Regions from separate parts of the Homo sapiens genome. Here all the other regions are linked to region 2. The links come from fine-mapping of genetic effects on gene expression. A gene starts in region 2. Each other region holds a variant in brackets. All regions are shown on one strand. Distances are between the middles of the regions. Region 1 has its middle 33 kb from the start of LINC02189. Region 2 holds the start of LINC02188 (long intergenic non-protein coding RNA 2188). Region 3 overlaps FOXL1 (forkhead box L1).

Region 1 (6,597 bases), 34 kb before region 2:
CATCCCATATTATCACATCTCTGTCACTGAAGCTTTTCTGTAAGGGGCAGAATATTTCAAAAGCTACACATCCGTTTTCTCTGCAGAATGTGATCAGAATGCTGCACCTTCGAAAAAATTATTTGTGACATGAAACTGTGGTACTTGGCTGAGAGTTTTGAGAAAAACAAGAGTTGGTAGGTGGATTTATTTTGAAGGTTAGCCTTCGACAAGGTTCAAGTGAGCTAGTTCTCTTAGAGAATTCCTTAGACAAGAGGAAAGGAGGAAGAGCGAGTGTCCTTTGTTTCCAGGGAGATTCTGACCAAGAACACACTAGACAAAACCAATGGGCCAGGTGTAGTGGCTCACTCCTGTAATCCCAGCACTTTGGGAGGCTGAGGCAGGCGGATCGCTTGAGGTCAGGAGTTTGAGACCAGCCTGGCCAACGTGGTGAAAGCCTGTCTCTACTAAAAATACAAAAACAAACAAACAAACAAAATAGCCGGGCGTGGTGGCAGGCACCTGTAATTCCAGCTACTTGGGAGGCTGGGGAAGGAGAATCGCTTGAACCGGGGAAGCAGAGATTGCAGTGAGCTAAGGTCGCACCATTGCACTCCAGCCTAGGCAACAGAGTGAGACTCCCTCTCAAAAAACAAAACAAAAACAAACAAACAAACAAAAAAACAATGAACCCAAAAGTTGCTTCTTTGAGAAGATCAATACAATGGATAAACATCTAACCAGGTTGATCAGGAAAGGGGAGAAAAGGCACAAATTACCAATTATTAGGGAAGAGTTTTTTTTTCTTTTCTTTTCTTTTTTTTTTTAACGGAGTCTCGCTCCATCGCCAGGGTGGAGTGCAGTGGCGTGATCTCGACTCACTGCAACCTCCGCCTCCCAGGTTCAAGCGATTCTCTGACCTCAGCCTCCCAAGTAGCTGGGACTAAAGGCACATGCCACCATGCCCAGCTAATTTTTTGTATTTTTAGTAGACACAGGGTTTCACCATGTTGGCCAGGATGGTCTCGATCTCCTGACCTTGTGATCCGCCCGCCTCGGCCTCCCTAAGTGCTGGGATTACAGGCATGAGCCACCAAGCCTGGCCAGGGATGAGATTCTTTTTTTTTTTTTTTTTTTTTTTTTGAGACGGAGTCTCGCTCTGTCGCCCAGGCTGGAGTGCAGTGGCGGGATCTCGGCTCACTGCAAGCTCCGCCTCCCGGGTTCATGCCATTCTCCTGCCTCAGCCTCCCAAGTAGCTGGGACTACAGGCGCCCGCCACTACGCCCGGCTAATTTTTTGTATTTTTAGTAGAGACGGGGTTTCACCGTTTTAGCCGGGATGGTCTCGATCTCCTGACCTCGTGATCCGCCCGCCTCGGCCTCCCAAAGTGCTGGGATTACAGGCGTGAGCCACCGCGCCCGGCCCGAGATTCTTGACATCACTGCAGATCTTACAGACAACTTGGGGAAAGTGGACAAATTGCTTGAAAGGCACAAACTACTAAGTTAACTCATGAAAAAATGGATAACCTGAACAGTCCTATCTATGAAAGTAACTATATTTGTAGTTAGAAACCTTCTCACCAAGAACACTCCAGGTCCATATGGCTTCACTGATGAATTCTACCCAGGCTTTAAGGAGACTAACGATTCCAAGTTTACATAAACTTTTCCAGAAAACCAAAAAGGGGAGAGCACTTTCTCATTCATTTAATGAGGTCAGCATTATCCTAATACCAAAGTCAGACAAAGCAATTACAAGACAAGAAAACCACAGGGCCATATTCCTCATGAACAAAGAAGCAACAATTCTAAATAAAATTTTAGGAAATCAAACCCAACAAAGGATAATGCATCACATGTAAGTGAGTCCCAAGAATGCAAGATTAGTTTATTTGAAAATCAATCAATGTAATTCATCATCGTGACAAACTAAACAAGAAAATCATGGCTGGGTGCGGTGGCTCATGCCTGAATCCCAGCACTTTGGGAGGCCGAGGCAGGCGGATCACTTGAGGTCAGGAGTTTGAGACCAGCCTGGCCAACATGGTGAAACCCTGTCTCTACTAAAAATACAAAAATTAGCTGGGCGTGGTGGCACATGCCTGTAATCCCAGCTACTTGGGAGGCTGAGCAGAAGAATCACTTGAACTAGGGAGGCGGAGGTTGCAGTGAACCGAGATTGTTCCACTGCACTCCAGCCTGGGCGACAGAGTGACACTCCATGAAAGAAAAAAGAAAGAAAGAAAAGAAAAGAAAAGAAAAGAAAAAAGAAAAGAGAGAAAAAAGAAAATCATGATAATCTAATAGTGGCAGGAAAAGCATCTGACAAAACCCAACATTCATTCCTAATTTAAAAAAGTCTGAGAAAACAAGGAATAGAAGGACATCCCCCTCATTTTGAAAAACACAGTCACAACTCACCCAGTATGAAATAGATAATTTCAATAGTCCTATAAGTACTTTAAAAATTAAATTAATAATTTTTAAATTACCACAAAAGAAATCTTGTTCATATGGCTTTACTGGAGAATTCTACCAAATGTTTAAACAAGAATTAACACCAATTTTATACAGTCTCTTCTGAGAAATACATGAGATGGGGATACTTTGCAGTTCATTCTGTGAAGCTAGTATTACACTAATACAGAAACCAGACAAAGGCAATAAAATTTTAGTCTAATATTCCCCGTGAATGTAGAGGCAAACATTCTTGAGTATATATCGGCAAACAGAATTCAGTAATATATAAGAAGAATTATACACCATAACCAAGTAGGATTAATTCCAAGGATGCAGGCATGTTTCAATACTCAAAAATTATGAGTATTGAACATAATCCACCCTACTGACAAGTTAAAGAAGAAAAATCACATATTCACATTAATCAATGCAAAAAACAGCATTGATAAAATTCAACATCCGTTTGTGATTTTAAAAAAAGCTCAGAAAAATAGAAATAGGGGAGAAACTTCCTGACTTGACAAAATGCAACTACAAAAAGCTACAGATAACATTATACTTAGTTGTGGAAGACTAAATGTTTTCCCCCTAAGATTGAGAACACAGCAAGAATGTCCACTCTCCCTACTCTTATTCAGTGTAGTGCTATAGGTTCTAGCCAGAATAATAAACACCAAAATTAAAAATACAATTCCACTTATAATTGCTCAAACGATGTAGTAAACGTAACAAAACACATACCTTGTATGCTGAAAAATATACAATGTTGATGAAGGAAATCAAAGAAGGTCTTAATAAATGGAGTGATATACTGCATTCAGGGATTGAAAGACTCAACATAGTAAAGAGGTCAATTCTCTTCAAATTGATATACAAGTTTAATGCAATTAATATCAAAATAACGGCAGAATTTTTTAACAGATGGACAGGGTTATTCTAAAATTTATTTGAAAATGGAAAGAAACTAGGTAAGTTCAAATAATTTTGAAAAAAAGAAGAATAAAGTGAGAAGAATCAGTCTCCCCAATGTCAAGGGTGACTACATAGCTACAGTAATCAAGAAGGCAGTGATAATGGTGGAAGGATAGACATATGTCAGTGGAACAGAATAGAGACTCAGAAATAGAACCACACCAATATGCCCAACTGATTTTTAACAAAGATGCAATTCAATGGAGAAAAAAAGAGACTTTTCAACAAACAGTGCCAGAGAATAGCACATAGGCAATAAAATCAACATCTATGTAAGGTTCACATCTTATACAAAAATCAATTCAAAATGTATAATGAACTTAAATGTAAAATACAAAACTATGAAACTTTCGGGAAAAATGTCTTAGGAATATA[G/C]GCCTAGGCAAAAAGGTCTTAAGACTTAACACCAATAGCACAATCCACAAAAGAAAAAGATTGATAAATTCAACTGCATCAGAATTAAAAACTTTTGCTCTTGAAAGATACTTTTCTAAGGATAAAAAGAAGATCCACAGAGTGAGAGAAAATATTTGCAAACAACATATCTGAAAAAGGACTAGTATCCAGAATATATAAAGAACTGTCAAGACTCAGTTAAACCAAACGATCCAATTAGGCAAAAGACATGACGAAACATTTCACTGAAGAGATTACACCGATGGTAAATAAGCACATGAAAAAACACTGAACGTCACCAGCCTTCACAGAATTGAAGAGAGTTAGGGCCTTGCTCCAGATTAGGCTTTGGCTCAAGGCAATGTTGTAGTTAGTTTGATCTTTTATTCAGACCGTAAACCTTTCACCATATCAGCAGTAAGGCTATTTCACTTTTTTATCATTCATGTGTTCACTGGAGTAGCACTTTTAATTTCCTTCAAAAGCTTTTACTTTGCATGCACAACTTGACCAACTGTTTGGTGCAAGAGGCCTAGTTTCAGCGTACCTTGGCTTCTGACATGGCTTCCTCACTAAGCTTAATCGTTTCAGCTCTCGGTGTAAAGTGAGACCTGTGACTCTTCCTTTCACTCAAACACTTACAGGCCACTGTAGGATGATTCCTTGACCTAATTTCAATATTATTATGTTGCAGTGAATAGAGAGGCCCAAGGATAGGGAGAGAGATGGGGGAAGAGCCAGTGATACAGTTAGAACACACAAGCCATTTATTGATTAAGTTCACTGTCTTATAGGGGCATGGTTCATGGTGCCCCAGAACAATTACAATAGTGACGAAGCTCACCGATCGCAGATCACCATAACAGAAGTAATCATAATGAAACGGTTTGAAATACTGTGAGAATTACTCAAATGTGACAGAGCCATGACATAAGCACGTACTGTTGGGAAAATGGCGCTGATAGACTTGCTCCATGCAAGGTCTCCACAAACCCTCAGTTTGTAAGAAACACAGACAGTAAAGCACTTAAATGCATAATAAAACAAGGGAGGCCTGCACACTCCAGTAAAGCTCTTTATTTTTATTTATTTATTTATTTAATTAATTTATTTATTTATTATTTATTTATTTATTTATTTATTTTAAGATGGAGTCTCGCTCTCTTGCCCAGGCTGGAGTGCAGTGACGCGATCTCGACTCACTGCAAGCTCCACCTCCTGGATTCATGCCATTCTCCTGCCTCAGCCTCCCTAGTAGCTGGGACTACAGGCGCCCGCCACTGCGCCAGGCTAATTTTTTGTATTTTTAGTAGACACAGGGTTTCACTGTGTTAGCCAGGATGGTCTCAATCTCCTGACCTCGTGATCCGCCCACCTCGGCCTCCCAAAGGAGTAAAGCTCTTTAAAAAAGAAAGAGTCTGGACAAGTAAATGTTGCCCTTTTAGAGTTTTTTGCTTTTCTAACAGAAAGAGACGTTAGAGACCGTCTAACCTCGTTGTTTTCCAACTGTGTTTCTTGGAACCTGAGGTGGACTATGATTTGCAAAGATGTCCGCAATCATACCCTGATGCCTGTAGGCTCTCCCACAACATGGTCTTGCCTCACCTGTTACTGAGAGGGAGATCTGTGTTCCCTGTGGTTGAATTTGGTGGCCCTTTGACCATCGATAGAATGTGGTGAAAGTAAGGCTGTGTGACTCCTGTGACTAGGTCACATGGGCCACATGTCTTCCACCTGGTTCTCTGGAAACTCTTGCTCTGGAGGAAGCCAGCCACCAAGTAAGAAATCTGACAACCCTGAGACCGCCATGCTGGAGAGGCCACATGTGGATGCATTGGCTGACAGCCCCTGCATCAACACCAGCCACGTGAGCAAGACACCTTGGACACACATGCGGCCTGTCAAGCCTCCAGCTGCCTGCAGTCCAAGCCAACACCTGGCTGCACTCTCTTGAGAGACTCCAAGTGATGATTGCCCAGTCAATCCCTCTCTAAATCCCAGCCCACCAAATCGTAAACAAAGTAAAAGGGCAATCGTTTGATAGCACTGATTTCTGGGGTAATTGGTTACGTAGCAATAGTAACCAAACTAGACCATGCCAGGGATCCCTGGAAGGCAGGGAGAGGGCAGGGTGAGAATCTTCATGGTGGGGGTTCTGGTAGCCTCCCTCCCTCCCTCCCTACTTGCTCAGGTGAGAGGAATTCGATTTGTTGGAGGAAAGTTCCCCTGGTCTCACCTAGCCCCTTCATTTTGGAGATCAGGATACAGAGGCAAAGCAGGGAAGTAATGAGCTGAGGTTTACAAGGCTAGGACGTGAACATGCCATTTCTCACCCTAGAATCTGGCAACTCCAAGTCCAGGGCTCCAATCTGAACATATCAGCTGGCCATTGGGAAGTTCCCAAGTCAATTCTGGGCTTTCTTAGTGCTCCCACTGTAATCTCAATAACACAGATGTTTTTTCCAATTCAAGTTGTGAATCTTAAAGCAAATCTGTCAATTAGAAGAGAGTCATCAGGTTCTGTAGTTAAGGTCTTCCAGTGCTAATTCAAGCAATCTGCTTTCCATCTAGCAGAAGCTACACCCCACATGTGTGTCCTGTGTGATTGTAACTTTGTTTTTAAAGCACTACCTGGGGAAGCATTTCTTATAAAAATTGTCGAAACAACGTAACACTCTCACCCACATGTATTTCCTTTCAGTTTCAACCCATCCAGTCCTGGCAACTCCTATAAGCATCTGCTGTGTTACTTTTTTCCTTCTTCTCCTTTAATGCCAGGGACCTCGTG
Region 2 (6,597 bases):
TGTTTGTTTGAGTTTGACAATGTGGGGAAAACAGTAGTTCTGTTCTTTCTTTGGTTCCCAAGCATATCTGAACAATTATTCTTATTTTTTAAGCATGTAAGAGCTAAGTTTCACACAGAAATGACAATACCGATAAAGCCATGTGACTTTGACGATTGTGGAAATGGGTCAGTGGGTGAATTTAAGTTCTTCTTCCTTATTTAAAACACTACACTTGAGTTGGATGCTTCAGTCCCCTAGTGTACTTTGTTGAGAGAGGCAAAGATCCAGTTCTGAATCTGTGCTCGGATGGCTCTGGGCAAATTGGAGGACGCGATTGAAAGATGCAGTTGTTCCAATTCATGGTGGCTCGATTGAACAATGACGGACCTGGACCTGGACCGTGCAGGTACCTACAGGCCCTGTGAGTGGGCCTTGGGAAAATGGAACAAAGCAATCGCATGCTGCCTCTGATCGGATTGCTCTCAGTGCCAAGTGCAGTATAGACAGAAGCTAGCAGTGGGTGCAGGGCAGCGTGGCGTGCTGGGAAGGAGCTACCATGCCGTCTTGAGATGTTGCTGGCAGATCCTCAGTAGCTTCAGACCCTGCTGGCTTGAGATGATGCCTGCAAAGCCTCAGTACCTTCAGACCCTGGCACTGACACACCGGAGAGTCACTGGGTGGGGGGCGGGCTCTGCGGCTCCCCATGGTTCGGGTTTTCCTGGCTCAAATGGAGATCACGGTTGTGTTTCAGGTAGGGCCTGGCACTGAAAATGCTTGGTATGGGTGGAGGTTGTTCTTTTTACCCACACATGATCTTTAAGATTGTGCTAGCGCATCTCACAAGACATTTGCTAAAACTGAATTGTATAACTTGCTTTGTGTTCAATGAGGAGGGAGCAGCCACACTGGAGAAAGATTTCAGCCATGACTACTGTGTATCACACATGAAATCCTGGCTTAAGGCTGTAGGACTCCATTACGCTGTTCCATGCACACACTACGTCTTTGCAGGTATCATGTCATTAGGTGTGATAACAGCTCAGCATTTTTACATTCTCCAAGCTATCATCATGTGCAAGGCATATTAGCTCCTCCTAGCCCAAAGCCAATAGAAATGTCAGTATGGCCCAAGGGGTGCCTGAGAATTTAAACCATGACACTTGAAGCAGGTCTAGGAGAACCACCCTGGAGGAATGGGCTGCAGGTGCAGCCTCTCCTGGATTTACAGGCTCATTCCCCAGTGGGCATCATCGTGGCTCCCACCTGGGTTCATCTCTTGAATCAGTTCTCTCTTCTGCATGGGTATCTGGGTATCCCTTGCAGAGTGCACACCTTTTTTATTTTTTGACATGATTTCAGATGTGCAGAAGAGGAGCACAAAAATCTCAAGATACCCTTCACCCAGAGTCCCCAAAATTAATATTTACCATATTTGTTGCATCTCTCTCTCTCTCTCTCTCTCACACACACACACACACACACACAGAGAGGAAGTTGCAGACAAGATGTGCCTTTACTATTAAATACTGCTGTGTGCATTTCCTGAAAACAAAGGGATTCTCTTCTGTAACCACAATGCAATTAACAAAACCAAGGATGTGGCATTGACACAATTCTATTAGCTACAGACCTCATTCACGTTTTTTCAATTGTCCTAAGACTGTTTGAGCCAAAAGAATATCCAAGATCATGCCTGGCATTCTGTTGTCGCATCTCTTTAGTCTCCATTAAGCAGAAAATCTTGAGTCTTTGTCTTTCATGACATTGATGTTTATTTTGTAGAATGCGTCACCATTTCAGGTTGTCCGAATTGTCCTTGTGGTCAGATTCACGTCAAGACTTGGGGCAACAACACCAGGATGTAATGTCCTCATCACATATATTGATCACGGGGCCTGTGGTGTTGATTTAGCCCGCTGCTGGTGGTAATACTTGGGTTATAGTTTTTGTACTGTAAAGTCACTATTTCACCTTATGTAGTAAGTTACAAGCATCTTACTAGGAGATCTTTAGTTAATTTTCCAAAGATTTAACGTGGAGCGAGGAACTCAATCAATGTTGAGCTCCTCTGAGAATCTAGCCCAGCAAATCCCAGTAGAGTGCAGACCCGGGCTGTGGGGAAGGCACAGGAGAAAACCTTTGAGGGGCCTTCAGGCCGGAAGGAACTTTAGCTACTCACCAGGTCTGCCCCCTTTTTGGCAGAAAGAGAAACTGGGATCTACAGGAGGGGCGTGCCTAGGGTACAAGGCAGAGAAGGGCACAGATGGCCAACTTCACCCTCTTGTGCCCTGGGATGATATAGGTTCCTCACATCACAGTAAGAGAGGACTTGCACCCTTCTGCTCACCAAGGGAACAAATGCAAACTAGAGAACTTGTGGGCATCTTAGACAGGGCTTTCATCTTTTTCTTTTCCTCACCCTCCTGATCATCCTCTGGTTCCTATTATTAAGAAAAAAAAAAAACCTGTCTGTCTATCCAACTGTCTTGCTATCTCTATCTGTGTATCCTTCTCCATAGCCAACCCTTTTTTATTTCTACTATGTATATATTTCTATACATCTGCGTCTATATCCACATTGCAATCTCTCTCTTTCTCTTGGTTTTCTTACCTTTCAATGTTAATTGCTAAATGGGAGTAGAGTGAACAACAATAAGAGCAAAAATATAATTTCCTTTACCTTTGCAATAACATTCATAAGGTATTACTGGGAAAACATTAAAAATGGGACCCTTGTTTGAAAGTAGCAGGCAGGAAACACCAAGAAGCTAGAGAAATTCTCTTCAGAAGCCCCCTCTGGCCCACTGAGGGTCACCTTGCTAGAGGTCATCCCTGTCCCTACAGTGGCATCTTGTATAGTGTAGGGCACTGGCTGGGTGCCAATCCCGAGTTGAGTGTTGTCCGATGCAGACACCCTTGGCTGATGACCTCAGACTTGCCTCGGAACCCTGGCTTTATGACCCAACTGTGTGCTATGGTCCAAATGTGTGTGTCTCCCTCAAATTTGAATATTGAAATTCTCACCTACAATGTGATGCTATCAAAAGGTGAGGTCTTCGGGAGGTGAGTGGTTTGTGAGGTAGAACCCTCATGCATGGGAATAGTGCCCTTATGAAAGAGCCCCAAGCCCGGGCACGGTGGCTCACACCTGTAATCCCAGCACTTTGGGAAGCCAATGTGGGCGGATCACCTGAGGTCAGGAGTTTTAGACCAGTCTGACCAACATGATGAAACCCCATCTCTACTAAAAATCCAGAAATGAGCCGGGCATGGTGGCGGGCGCCTGTAATCCCAGCTACTTGGGAGGCGGAGGCAGGAAAATCGCTTGAACCCGGGAGGCAGAGATTGCAGTGAGTGGAGACCATGCCATTGCACTCCAACCAGGGCAATAAGACTGAAACCCCATCTCAAAAAATTAAATAAATAAAAATAAAATAATAAAAAACGCCCCAGAGAGGCCCCTTGCCCCTTCCAGCATATATGGACTCTCGAGAAGGTGCCATCTATGAGTCAGGAAGTGACCTTCACCAGACACTGAAGTGGCCAGGGCCTTGATCTTGGACACCCCAGCCTCCAGAACCGTCAGAGATAAATCTCTGTTGTGCATGGGCTGCCCAGTGGATGATATTTTGTTACAGCAGCCCAGGTAGACAAAGACACCAAGTTTTCTTGTCATGAGATCTGAATGAATAATTCGCTGTGTGTGGTTTGACACTGCAGTGGCTTTTCTGACCCTCCACCTGCCACAATCTCCTTCCTGGATTAAACTCCTTCTCCTGTACATGCCGAGATGTTTCTGTTCCCCGGTTGTGTCTTGACCAACAGTCTTCACGAAGTCTTTCTTTTCAAGCTTACTCTGTCATGATTTTGGTGTCTGGTCATGCCCGGAAATGGAATAGAAAGACCTAGGATTCTCCCTTCACCCTAAGGGAAATCCTTGCTTCGCTGAAAATGGGTGAAGCTGTGGGCTGAAAAAATATGTGTTCCTTCTTTATCTGGCTTCTCTTCACTCAGCTTCTCTGTTCAGTCCCTGCATTATTCATTTTTGGTGCACTTCCAATGATGTCTTATTTCACAATCAGCCGTAATACTGATCATAGAAACTTTTGTATGTGCTGCTTTTTGTGCAATAAATCTCTATTTCAAGCAGTACTCCAGTGACTAGCTAACAGGCTATCTGTTTCACAGCTATGTAGGATAATTGAGGCCTACTATTACTTTGAGGTTTAATTTCTGAACCTAATTGTGTGTGTGCATGCGTGCAGGTGCGTGTGTGTGTGTGTGTGTGTGTGTGTGTGTTCGGGGGAGTCTGTGCACCCATGTGTGTGAACCCAGAATCATACAGGAGACAGGTGAATTGGTTGGCGTCTTTGAGTGGTGGGCTTGAAGGCACACAGCCTTCCTGGTTGACCTTAGACCGGTAAATTCAGGCCTGTTAAATTTCAGGTAAGGTCACTGCCATTTAAGGAGATCTGTTTTGCTTGAATATTCTGACTGTCAGTCCGCAGACATAGGGAGTGTGTGAGTGTGAGTGTGTACCAAGATGAGGAGGATAATCAGGCTCCGGCTCCGTTTTTCTGACACTTTTATGGCTGCCTTTCTTCTGTGCCTGGGCTTCGTTCTCATGCTCTTTCCCTCGTTGTTGCGGGATGGTGGCAGCATCAGCAGCTGCAGAAACTCTTGTTCATTTCCTAGCTCCGAGGAGCGTCATTTCTCCAACTTGGAATAAAAGCCCATCCTCTACCTGATTGGGCCACTCAGATCAAGGGCTTAACACTAGCAACAGTTGCTAAGGCACTGCTAGAAACCGATTAGCTGAAGCCTGGGTGTCTGAACCAATCATTGCCAAGGGGGCGGGACTTGCCCCATCCCTGGAACTATGAATGTCTCAGCCCCTTGAGATCACCTGGGCGTGGAAGAAAGTTGAAAAAAGAAATCAGAATTCGCTTAGGATGTAGGAGGTAGTGTGGATGCTGGGACAGCGACCAGTGCTGTCTACTGTAATTCCCAGTTTGGTGATGAGCAGCGTGAGGCTCAGGAGGATTAAATTTGCCTAAAGTTGCAGCTGGCCAGTCAAACATTGGAAACCAGATGTATTTTGGCTCTAAAGTCTTGTGGGTTTTCTTTGAACCCACAACTACTCTCTATAGATTGGGGACGCTGTGCCAAGCAGCTTTGTAGACTACCAATTACTCAGCCAGCCTGGGAATCGCTGCAGCATTATTGACAATAGCCAAAAGGTGGAAGCAACCCACGTGTCCATCAGTGAATGAATGAAGAAAGAAAATGGTGCATCCAAGTAATGGAGGATTATTCAGCTTTAACAAGGAATGAAGGGTGGGCACCTGCTACAACATGGATGAAGCTTGGGGACATTCTGCAAAAGAGACAGTCACCAAAGACAAACACTGTGTGATTCCACTTTGATAAAGCACCTAGAGTAGGCAGAATCATAGAGACGGAAAGTAGAAGGCACCGGACGCAGCGGCTCACGCCTGTAATCCCAGCCCTTTGGGAGGCCGAGGCAGGTGGATCTCCTGTGGTCAGAAGTTTGAGACCAGCCAGGCCAACATGATGAAACCTCGTCTCTATTAAAAATACAAAAATTAGCTGGGCGTGGTGGCATGCGCCAGTCATCCCAGTTACTCAGGAGGCTGAGACAGGAGAACTGTTTGAACCCAGGAGGCAGAGGTTGCAGTGAGCCAAGATCGTGCCATTGCACTCCAGCCTGGGCAACAAGAGTAAAACTTCATCTCAAAAAAAAAAAAAAAAAAAAAAGAAAAACAAAAAGAAAAAGATAGTAGAAGGGTGATTGCCAGGGACTTATGGGGTGGAGATGGGGAGTTATAATTTAGTGGGGACAGCGTTTCAGCTTAGGAAGATGAAAAAGTTCTGGAGGTGGATGGTGGTGATGGTTGTACAATAGTATGAATACAGTCAACACCACAGAACTACACGCTTGAAAGTGGTTATTGTGGTAAATTTTGTTACGTATATTTTACTACAATATAAAAAAAAAACAATTTTTTAAAAAGTTGTGCTCCAGAGAAAGTGGGCATTTTAACTTCTGCGTGGAGGGGTTTGGCTACAAGGTTCAAAACATCTGTCATGACTCTGGAGCCTCCGAAGCCTCCTAACTTCACTGGCCAGTGATGTCCGCTGCCTCTTCCTCTCTTGAATGTCATCTGGAAAAGTGAGCGGTGATATGTGGAAACGCTTCTCAATGCTCTTCCTGACAGCAATAGTTGGCCTGACACTAGAATTCTTCTCCACTGTACACTGACCCCCGTTGTGTGTCTGTTACCACCACGTTACTCGCCTACATTTTTAGCAATGTGTGACCTTGCACGTTTCCTGCCACCCTGCGCTCCTGACATGAGTAGTCTTGCATCTCTCTCCCCAGCCAGACAGCATGCATGGGCCAGAGTCATGTGCTTGGGGAAAAGGTGGGTTGTATCGACTCCACAACCAGTCAGAGTGCAGTGGGCCCATGTTTTGTAAAACATATGTTTGGCAAATGACTCCCTGTGGGTTGCAGAAATCCAGATGGGGGAAGTTTTCTAAGTGTGATGTCAGAATGTTACATCTGCTGATCCCACGGGTGCATGGGACCAA
Region 3 (5,745 bases), 140 kb before region 2:
AAGTGTTACCAACCATTGCGCGCAGGTGGGCGCGCTCGCCTGCCTTCTCCGAAGCAAACTTTTCCCAGCAACTGGGAGCAGCTACGGAGACTTAAAAGATCCCCGCGGGGTCGTGGGCACCGCACGTGGGCCCTGCAGGGACCTCCACCGCGGGAGATTCCTTGACGTTTGACCTGTCTAATGGAGTGTGGTCTTCAGCCGCCCACCGCAGGTCCTGCGAGTCCCGGGCATGCAAGGGCCCGCAGACCACCCAAGGCAGGCCTTACAGGTGCAGTTGAGGTCCTTTCGACCGGGGACCCCCGTATGACCGTCGCCTGCTTCGCTGTTGCCGTGTGGCTCAGGCCTTGGTTTTGAGCCCATCTGGGTGGTGGGTGGTCACAGCTGGGTTTGTTCCTGACTTGAAGTTGTGGAGGTGCCGGGGGTGACCCCGGGTTTTCAGGTTTTCTGAGAGATGTAGGGCCCGATGAGGATTTATGACCAATGTTCAGCTATAGAAGCTGATAACCACCCAGAGCAATAACACTTTTATTTTAAACAGAGACTTTTTCTCTTAATTTCTTTCTGGGTAGTAAAAAGAACATGTTTCATTCTTTGCATAAATACTTGACTCTAAGCATTGACCTTTGAAAACGCTTGTATTAACAATTTTTATTAAGAAAGTGCACTCTATATAACATCTTCTTGCATTACGATAGCTCATTAGCCAATACACATGCAGCTATGTAAGCCACAACAGCAGACGTCCTATCCTTTTGCTTTTGTTTTTAAGGGATCAAAATATTTCAAGGGATACCATGAGGAAGGGTGTGAGGGGAAGGGGATATGCCTTGGACAATGTCAGAGTTTTGATTTCCATGTTTTTTCAAGATCCAGGCTTGGTGGTCGCTATATTTTTCAGAAACAGATAATGAAAGACTACATTTAATTTAAAAAGTTGGGTGAAACAACCAAAAGCAGATGCAGAGAGAGAGAGGGATGAATGCGGGGGAAGAATAAGGGGACGTGCTGGTGTCCGCTGGAAGGGGCCTCTCTGGGCCCCAGAGGACCTGAGGTTTGATGGCAGGAATCTCCCAGACACTCCTGGCCCCCGCACCCCCTGCAGCCGCCCGCTCTTCCCTCCCAGCCCTGCCAGGCAGGCCTGGAGGCTGATACTAAATCAAAACCTTAAAGAGGTGACTGGCAGTCTGGGGAGGGGAGAAGAGGTCTGCAACGAAAATCTAATTAAGAACATTGAGATGTTCACAACCAAGTTCAGCTTGCAGCTTCCGGGGAAATGCAACCGACCTCTATGCCATCTCTAGCTGGGTAATCTTCGAGGCCCTGAAATGCAATTTTCTGAACCTCTAAGTCACTTTTATTTTATGTCATGTGATAAAGACACAAGTAGTCACGCACTATTGGAAATAGGTTGGGAGGGAGGTCTTTAAGATCGCTTTTAAAATAGTTTCCAGGACTTGTCTAAAAATGATGACAAACTTTGAATCCAGAGGGCCTGTTGGTCAATGTGTTGGAAAGGACATTTCAGGCCGGCAGAGTAATTGGATAATTCACAGGCATAGAGGTGACTTTTGGAAAATTCATTCTCCTATCCATGCTGAACCAGGCTTCCACGACTGGGTTCTACCCAGGCCAGTGGGAAGACTCTGGGAAACTTCAGGCCAGCCTTGATTGGAAGAACTTCCAGGAGGAGCCATTGCTGAGATCCAGGCTCACTGTGATTCACTGAAAATGTAGCGAAAGGGCTGTCACTGGATATTTTGCTATCCCAAACTCTCAGCCTCTGTGAATAAAGTTGTTTTTTCATTAACCTCTCAGTGACTGGTTCAGTGGATTACTGGAGGGAAATAAACAAACAGTGTAATAAGAAAGAGGAGACTGGGATTATATCTGGGAGTCGTGTTAGCATCTCAGGAGGCTCTGGCTTCTGAGGGGTAAACACACAGATGGAGGGGAAGGAGTGGAGAGGATGCCGGGCCCAGGAAGCTGCCTCCATATCAGAAAGCACGATGAGTTAATTCTGCCGTATTGAATCGGTTTTTAATCTTTCCTTTTTCTTTTTTGTGTTTGTATGTTATCTTGGGAGGTTTTGTTAATTTGTGATGGCTATGTTTTGAAGAAGCAAATAATTTGATACTGCAGTTTTAAAAGGGTCGTATTTTAAAGTTACTATTCCAAAAAGTATTGTACGAATGTTACTTTTATGACACAGAAAAAATGCAGATGTATCCACTTTGTGTGTTTATACATGCATAAAGAGAAATTCTATTTAATCCCAACTTTTGTCTGGTTTAGAAAAGCTAAGACAAGTGGATACTGAGGTCGTTTTTATGTAATCTATATAATTGCATGTGTATTCCTTCCTCCTGAACCAAAAAGAGGAGGTTTGGGTCTTACCAATCCGAATAGCTGTTCTATTGATCCATATTTAATCGTTGGCTCAAAATTATGGCTCAATAAGGTCAATAGTTTCTGCTCTTAATTAAAACAAAATCTCAGCTATAATTAGGGTGAGCCAGAAGCAAGCTTATCATTGTACTCTTAGGCAATCTGAAGGAATACCTCTCTGCTCTCATCTAAACAAAGGGAACAGATCTGTCTTCTGTAAATGATCTTTGGTTCAAGCCCTGATTACACACACACACAAACAAATACCCACACACATATGAGTGCACTGATCATAATGAGGATATGGCAGGCACATGTTTGATAACAAAGTGTGTATACATATGTACACGTTTATATATATGTATATACATATATATACATGAATGTGTAGGGGTGTGTGTGTGTATTTGTTCTGTGTACATGAATGCTCATAAATGTATCTTTTTTGAATATACCTGAGACTCAGATCAAGTACTGAGTCCTTTCACTTTAACCCAAGTATTGATACTATTTGAAAGATTTTGTTTTTCTATATAGTTTTTAAAAATAGATAATAATTTCTATATAGCTTTAATAGTTTTGTTTCTCTATGTAGTATGAACCAGGGATAACTTTATTGTTCTGTGTTAGTATAGTGAAACTGACAGATTTTATTTAAACATCGCGGAAGACACCCGCTTTGAGAACTTTTCCCTCCGTTCACAAGGACAGAGAACTTTACAAAGGACTCTTGCTCTGCCTGGCCTCATCTAGTTGCTGGCTTTTCTAGAAACAAACGGCCTCCTGGGCCTCCAGTGAACCATAAGAGTTTTGAGAACCTGAATAGGACCTTCTTAGCCATTTTCAGATTTAATTGTGCCCGTTTGAATGGTGGTCTTCACCATTTCACTCAAAGTGGTGAGTGTATGCCCGTGTGTATGTTAAAGAATTAGCCACATATAATTATTGTTACAGCTGAAAGCCAGAGCCAGCCTGCCCAGACCCTGGCAGGTTAATGTTAACATCACAAAGGTAGGTGACGTTTCCAGTAACCAGCTGCACCCAGGAGTGAGAAAATAAGGGGAGAGCCATGATTTTGTGCACTTCCTGGCTTCATGGTGG[A/C]TGGAGTCTTGTTTCCATGAAATAAAGGTTGTTTCATAGAATGAAAAACATAAATGATAAAAAGCAAAGTTTGTCCATTAAAAATAAAAAGCGTGAGTTTGTGGAAAAGTAAGATTCTTTTGACTCACATTTAAAGCAGTTTTTTAAATACACCTGAATAGCCACATGACAAGCTCTCTCCTCTGCTGGTCCTTATCCAGAGGCCCCAGTGCTGAGTTCTTCAGGGCTAGGCAGGGGCCACAGGTGTTTACAGTGACCTGGAGTGGGGCCTGATCACTGGAGCGGGCAGTGGTGGGGCTTGGGCTGAATTGGGGTGAGGGAAGTTCTGTCCCTTCAGATGGCATCCAAATGCCAATTGCACTAGGCAAATCAAATGTGTGGCTTATAGGCCAGATGTAGAGTCAAGCTCAGGCTCTCCACCTTGGGGTGCAAATGAAATCTGGGGGGGTCACAGTCAACTCAGGTATCTTTACAGTAGCAGTGGGGGTGGAGGGAAGCAATGGAACAAAGATTTGGTCCCAACCTGTTTTTTCCATTAGGTACAAGAATCAGCGTCCTGGCAGGAAATAGAAACCCACTTAGATGGCTCCATGGAAAGGATCAGGGTGGAAGGACTATTTATGGAGGAGTGGGCTGGATGAACGAAACCGCCAGTGATTAGCAAGGGTGAGAACAGCTCCATCCTGCCTCTGCCCCCTCAGCCTGCAGCAGGTACCACCTTCAGAGCTGGAGTGGAAAGGAGCCACAGTGCTGGAGCAGACAGGAGGGAAGGGAAATATCCCACCTCTCCTCTTCCGCCTTCCAGCCTCATCTGATGCTTCCGATGGGCTGAAACCTGCAAGAAACCCAGCCTGCAAGGTAGCCCAGGTAATGCTGTCCATAGGGGTCAACCTGCAGAGGAGGTGAAGAGGGGCTGCGAGTGGACCAGGGAAGGGCTGGGCAAGCTGACTGTGACCAGCACACTGGGGGTCCTTCTGCGGGGACCAGGAAGTTGCCGCTGCCCTGACCACACCTTGATGTACAAAAGCCAAGGCTGGGATGTCCCAGACAATGCCTATGGCTGCATCTGGAATTCCAGAAGATTGGAATCTCCCATCTGGCAAGCTTCCAAGAGAAGCAGGCTGTAGATACTAATCTGGGTCCCTCTTAGGTGGGCAGGGCCTCGGCTTCAACTGAGTTCCAGAGAGGGCCTGCCCTGGCCATGCATCTCTGCCTGGATGTCTTGGAGTCTGAGAAGTTGCTGGACTGCCTTTGACTGTGCACAGTAGTAATGGTTTTTCTTTTTCTTTTCTTTTCTTTTTTCTTTTTTCTTTTTTTTTTTTTTTTTTGAGGCTGAGTCTTACTCTGTTGCCCAGGCTGGATTGCCATGCAGTGTTGTAGTCATAGCTCACTAGCCTCAAACTCCTGGGCTCAAGCCAGCCTCCTGCCTCAGCCTCCTGAGTAGCTGGGACCATACGTGCACACTATTACACTTGGCTTATTTCACAAATTTTTATGTTTGCAGAGAGGGGTCTGGCATGTTGCCCAGGCTGGTCTCGAACTCTTGACCTCAAGTGACTCTCCCACCTCAGCCTCCCAAAGCACTGGGATTACAGGGGTGAGCCACAGGGCTCAGCCTTCACTGGGTTGTGTGGCTGACGCTGTCCTGCCCTTTTAGAATGTGTGGACCACATGTTGGTGAGGGCATCCTCAAGCCCAATCCAGAAGAAGTTGGGACGATAAAAGGGTCTCCACCCCAGGGCAGTGTCCGTGTTAAGCCCACTTGGAAGGGTGAGGAACAACACCCTGGAGTTTGCGAGGTCACATGGACTTCGACAGCATGAACTTTAAGGAACAGCTCATGCCTTTGCAATGTGCAGCGGAAAGTATTATGAACCTCACGCCACCCAGAGCTCTTGGCTTCTCATCTCTCGGCTTCTCATCTCTCCCAGGTAGCTGGTCACCATCTCCTATCCACCTCTTCCAGGTCCACTCCAACACACCCAACAATGGGAACAATTGCTGTAATTGCATCTTATTGATTCCTTACCCCTCAGTAATTGATCTAGTCAGGGTGAGGTGGCCCCGGAAGAGGGTTCCTTAACCTGGATAAGAGTGTGGCCTCGGAGCCCATGAGACAGAGGCTAATAATGCAGCTGAGCCTTCACTTGCTGTTGACATTGGCAGTGACCTAACTCTTTTGTCCCTTAACTCCTGGCATGGGTACAAATAACATTAGTAACTACTTCATAGAGCTGTAATGGGCATAAATTAAATGAT

Evidence for each region. PIP is the estimated chance that this variant, and not a neighbour inherited with it, causes the effect.
Region 1: its variant is the best candidate, but not a certain one, in a credible set for the expression of LINC02188 in atrial appendage (GTEx, PIP 0.79).
Region 3: its variant is the best candidate, but not a certain one, in a credible set for the expression of LINC02188 in tibial nerve (GTEx, PIP 0.55).

What each region holds. Positions count from the first base shown.
Region 1 is chr16:86,685,493-86,692,089 of GRCh38, forward strand. No RefSeq gene overlaps it. Among named protein-coding and RNA genes, the nearest start is that of LINC02189, 33 kb to the right of the region's middle. The variant G/C (reference allele first, on the strand shown) is at 3,789.
Region 2 is chr16:86,719,103-86,725,699 of GRCh38, forward strand. It overlaps LINC02188 (long intergenic non-protein coding RNA 2188), which reads left to right and starts at 2,989. Exons shown (of 3, transcript NR_135183.1): 1 at 2,989-3,029. LINC02189 (long intergenic non-protein coding RNA 2189) reads right to left here and starts at 2,857. Exons shown (of 2, transcript NR_135181.1): 1 at 2,663-2,857; 2 at 1,582-1,901.
Region 3 is chr16:86,579,885-86,585,629 of GRCh38, forward strand. It overlaps FOXL1 (forkhead box L1), which reads left to right. Exons shown (of 1, transcript NM_005250.3): 1 at 1-3,594. Among named protein-coding and RNA genes, the nearest start is that of FOXL1, 4.2 kb to the left of the region's middle. RefSeq lists an enhancer at 1-146. The variant A/C (reference allele first, on the strand shown) is at 3,487.